Linked DNA regions of Homo sapiens: region 1 is linked to region 2. Evidence: fine-mapped expression QTL. Tissue or cell type: sun-exposed skin. Region 2 holds a variant in brackets; the other region holds the start of a gene. All regions are shown on one strand. Distances are from middle to middle.

What was found. PIP is the estimated chance that this variant, and not a neighbour inherited with it, causes the effect.
Region 1: it holds the start of DENND4B, and the variant in region 2 is fine-mapped to the expression of DENND4B in sun-exposed skin (GTEx, PIP above 0.99).

The regions. Positions count from the first base shown.
Region 1 is chr1:153,945,456-153,948,127 of GRCh38, forward strand. DENND4B (DENN domain containing 4B) reads right to left here and starts at 1,263. Exons shown (of 28, transcript NM_014856.3): 1 at 846-1,263. CRTC2 (CREB regulated transcription coactivator 2) reads right to left here. Exons shown (of 14, transcript NM_181715.3): 14 at 2,220-2,672. The coding sequence ends at 2,654. RefSeq lists enhancers at 453-953, 1,765-1,834 and a silencer at 475-1,374.
Region 2 is chr1:153,850,272-153,852,771 of GRCh38, forward strand. All of the region lies in intron 1 of GATAD2B (GATA zinc finger domain containing 2B), which reads right to left. It also overlaps the pseudogene LOC645965. Among named protein-coding and RNA genes, the nearest start is that of GATAD2B, 71 kb to the right of the region's middle. The variant C/A (reference allele first, on the strand shown) is at 981.

The DNA.
Region 1 (2,672 bases), 95 kb after region 2:
GATGTGCAGTCCTGCTAACCTCCTGCTGTTCCCCCAGAGAACAGGGAATAAGGAATCTCATAGAGCCAGGCTGGCTTTCTTCATCACCTGGCCTCTGGACACACACACACACACACACACGCACACACACACGCACACACGTACACACACCAACCCCAGCTAAATTTAGACTCCACTTCTGGGAGGTAAAGCCAGGAGTCAGCGTCAGCCTCTTGATTTAATTCTGGGGCACAGACCTGTCCCTCATCCACTGAGGGCGAATGGGAGCCCTATGCCCAAGGCAGCAGGCAGAGGCCATTAGGTGGGACCTTCTGAGGGGCAAGTGGGTGGCACCCATCCGCAGGACCTGCGCACCGGGGCCTCCCCTCACCAAGCCAGGGAAGAGTCCTGCAGAAAGCAGCCCTTTCTCCCTAGGGAAGACAACGGGCACAGGGCCCACTCCGGGTCCCCACGCCCGCGTGCCGGGTGACGGGAAGTTCGGGTTGGGGCAGAGGGCGCGCCGAGGGGGAGGAGGCTGAGGAAGGAGCAGGAGGGCAGAGAAGCAGGCGCGCCGGCGGCCGAGGACGTGACGGCAGCAGCGCCGGCCGCCGCGTGACCCAAGCGGGAGGGAGGGCGGCTCCGACTCCGGCACCCACGGGAGCAGAAGGGGGTGCAGGAGGCCGGGCACGGCGAGCTAATTGCGGGAGGTGCCCTCCCCTCCACTTTCACTTCCCCAGGAGAGAGGAACCGGAACCAGATGTGCAGTGAGGGACAGCAGCTGGGGGCCATCCCCCACCCCGCCTGCCGCCCGCGCTCCCTCCTGCCCGTCCCCGCCTGCCGCCCAGCCCGGTCCAGCCCCTACCTGCCTGTCCCGCGCTTCCCGGCCGGCCGGCCCGCTGGCGGGTGGCTCGGAGGGCGAGCTGGCGGGCCGGCGGGCGGCGGGGCTACCCGGCCCCAGACATGGCGCACCCGACTTGGGCGCCGCTCCCGCCCGGGCAGTGAGTGAAGGAAGAAGAGGCGGCCGAGGACCGCAGAGCGCGGGGCGCAGTGGAAGGAGATCCGGGCGGTCCCCGCGTCCCCGCCGCGCTGCGCCACGCGGGGACTGTGCTGCCGCGCTGCTCGCTCGGCCGGCTCGGTCCTCCCAGCTCCCGCGGCGCCGGGGACCCAGCGTTCCTCCGCGCGCCCCGCTTTCTCTACTCCCCCAACCCCCGCTCCGGGCCGCGGGCGCCGCCGCTACCCCCACCCCTCCTCCTCGGCCGGCGGCCGTGACCCTGGCAAGCGTCTGCCCAAAGCCCAGCCGCCTGCAGCCCGACCCCTGGCGGCTGGGAGGGCCCCCTGCACCCAGGTAGCTTCCCACCATCCAGCCCGTGCCTCAGGACACTGACCCCAGGCGACCCAGAGGGCCGCGGCGCGCTCCCTTCCCGCCTGGGTCCTGCAGTCAGATGTGGCAAGCATGATGTGGGCGCAGGTGAAGTCCCGAAGGTCTAGTCTACGGGGACCCAGGTGGCTCCCCCTACTTCCAGGTTTAGGGCACAGGGCATTCCCTTTGGACCAGAACCAGAAGCTCTCAGTTCTCTTTTTTGAAAATGACAAGAGCTTTGGAAAGAGGAAGAGAGGCCAGGACTGCAGGGTGTGGAATAGAGCAGTGGAGGTGGGGGTAAGGTAACTGCGGGGCTCTACTTTTCTCACTATGCGGGTTGGGGGAGTGAGGGGTGCAGAGGCCCACACGGCTGGTCCAAGGGCTGGCAACCCAATCCAGAAAGAGAAAACCTTCAGAACATGCATGGCACTGAAGGATCTGTTTAATTAAAACTAAAATGAATGAGTGGTGAAGAGTGGAGAGGGTGAAGTGAATGCATGCATAGTGAGGGAGTGAGGATGAAGGCTTGCTTCCCTGAGACCTAGGAGCACTTCAGACCTGTGGGCTCAGCCAGCAATCACCTCCTTACCCGACTCACTGCCAGACCTAGGGTTGAGGAAGAGGAATAACTTGTCTGATCAGTCAAAGCCCCCATCTGATGCTGCAGCAGGGCCCTGGACAGACAGGAGGGCACATGAAGTGATTTCCTGCTGCCGTGGAAGCCTACATCCAGCTGGGTACAAATTCCGAGGCTGTGGGGCCCTTCCACAAAGCACAGTGGTGCTAAGAAGATGCAAAAAGCCTAATAGATAAAAAGACCCATGGCCCTATAACTCCCTAGATCCCCAGCCATGCCCCAAATAACTAACCACACCAAGGGTTTGATATGATTTTTTTATTAACATATAATAATATATTTAATAAAAAATAGTATCCACTCTGGCTCTCTCCTCCACTGCAAGGGGAAGAGTGGTGAGGAGGGGCTGGCACTGCCCACCCCTAGGCATCCGGAAAAGCCCTGCTTCCAGGGCTCCCCTCTACCCCTGCTTTCCAACAGGCTCTGACCTCCAGACAGACGGTTCAAAGTTACAAGTGCTTTAGGCCCTCCCTTGAGTTCCCCCAGGCCCATCCCTTGCGCAGAATTCAGGGGCCACCTGGACAAACCCCTTGCTTTTTCTCATTCTTGGCATCCTTCATTCATGCTAGAAAGAGGATCTGGGGACAGAGAGTAGAGTCTCTACCTGCCAGGGGGAAGGGAGGAAAGGAATGGTGGTGGGGGATGGGGCCAAGAAGAGGGATGGTGATGAGGTGCCCTCATTGGAGCCGGTCACTG
Region 2 (2,500 bases):
TTTAAACCCACACAAATAAGCCCATACTTAATTATTTTTCCTTTTTAGGACAGAGTCTCACTCTGTTGCCCAGGCTGCAATGCAGTGGCACAAACTTGGCTCACTGCAGCCTTCACCTCCCGGGTTCAAGTGATCCTCCTGCCTCAGCCTCCTGAGTAGCTGGGATTACAGGCATCCGCCACCATACCCAGCTAATTTTTGTATTTTCAGTAGAGACCAGGTATCACTATGTTGGCGAGGGTGGTCTCGAACTCCTGACCTCAAGTGATCCGCCCACATCAGCCTCCCAAAATGCTGGGATTACAGGTGTGAGCCACTGCGCTCAGCCTAATAAGCCCATACTTAATTTTTAAAAAATTGTTTGTTGGCCAGGTGCGGTGGCTCACACCTGTAATCCCAGCACTTTGGGAGGCCTACGCAGGCGGATTGCTTGAGGTGAAGGAGTTTGAGACCAGCCTGGCCAACATAGTGAAACTTCGTCTCTACTAAATAAACAAAAATTAGCCAGGCGTGGTGGTGTGCGCCTATAATCTCAGCTACTCAGGAGGCTGCGGCAGGAGAATCGCTTGAACCTAGGAGGCGGAGGTTGCAGTGAGCCGGGAACGCGCCACTACACTACAGCCTGGGTGACAGAGCAAGACTCCACCTCAAAAAAAAAAAAGTTTTTTTTTGTTTTATTGTGGTAAAAACACTTAACACAAGATCTACCCTCTTAACAAATTTTCAAGTGTACAATACATTAATGTTGACTATAGGTACAGTGTTGTATGGCAGATCTCTAGAGCTTTTTCCCGTTTGACATTAATTTTACATACATTGTTTAGCAACTCCCCAATTTCTCCTCCCCCTCAGCCTTTGGCAACCACCATTTGACTCTGTCAACCTATGAATCTGACTAGATACCTCACATAAGTAGACTCACATAGTTATTTATCTTTCTGTGACTGTATTATTTCCCTTAGCATAATGTCCTCAAGCTT[C/A]ATCCATGTTGTCACTCTTTGGGATCCTGATTTTATTTTGGATAAATATCTAGAAGCATGATTGCTAGACCATCTGGTAGTTCTATATTTAATATGTCAAGGAACCTCCATACTGTTTTCCATAGTGGCCGCTTGTACCATTTTGCATTCCCACCAACAGTGTGCAAGGGTTCCAATTTCTTCACTCCCTTGCCACTTAAAAAAAATAGCCATCTTGACATTGACAGGTGTGAAGTGATGATATTTCATTGTGGTTTTGATGTGTACTTCTCTGATGATTAGCAATGTTGAGCAATTTTTCATATACTTGGCCACTTTTATGTCTTCTTTGGAGAATGTCTATTCAGGTCCTTTGTCCATTTTTTTTTTAATCTTACAGTGAATTATATTGAATTCAAAGGTAGTATTCCTATTTGAGAAATAAAAAACTAAAATCAAGTTGTACAAGCAATCATCATGAGATAAATCAGTAAAGAGGCCTGCTCAGATCATACCAGAGCAGACACCAGTTTCTACCCCAGCCCGCATGAAGATGTTTTTATTCAACACAAACAGTAACAGAGGGTAACACAATGGCCACAGAATGAGAACATAAGTGCACTTGAATTTTTTGTGAGTTCTGGCTAGGCTCTAACAAGCCTAGCATTCTTTTCTTACCAGGTGAACAGAAATCATCTGCTAAAGCCAGAAACTTTAAAGCTCTTAATCCAGCTGGAAATAACTATAATTGAGGGCCTTTTTACTAGCTACTTGCTTCCCAATTTAGGGTTGCCTAGCAGGGTTAATTTCAACATAACGAAAGGTGTTAACTGGCTGGCCGCATCATTCACTGGTGACAGGGGCAAGTTTAATGAGTTTTGTGCTCAGATCGCTGGGCCTCCTGGCTGCTCTTGTCCATCTCTGCACTTTGGTCCTAAGCATTCTGAGACTCAGTCAGTTGAGGGTGAAAGGGACCTACCAGCCAGTTGAGGGGCATGTTGTTAACAAGAAATCCATCAAGTCATCTAAAGATTCCTTCATTTTCTGCAGCTGCCCCTTGCTAGAAGTGGAGGCTGTCAGACACTTCCTCAAAGGAGGCAGCATTGCAGAACACTGAGTAGATGTCGCCTGCCATCACCCTCATATGCTTGGCCTGACCTTGGATGTTCTGTGGTCATCATGGATGTTGGACAGAAGGCCGTGGCATGTGGTCTGGAGCTGCTAAGTCAGGTTGCAGGCAATAGCAAGAGTACGTGACTCGATGTGCTCTGCACAGTGGGACTCATCAGTATCATCGTATCCAATATTCCTTTTCCACTCCACCCATGAGAGCTAGAGCTTATCCTGAGCATCCTGAATTTTCTGATTGGCACTATGCACACTCTTCCTGGCAAATTCAATCAAGTGAACAGAAGAACGGAGCTGAGAAATGGTCTCTTGGCTTTTTTGCTTAGCTTCTTTAACCCTGCTGAGAGCCTGCTCATACGAAGTGAAGCTTGGTAGACAGGGAGTGAAGCTTGGTAGACAGGGATCCCAGTCTA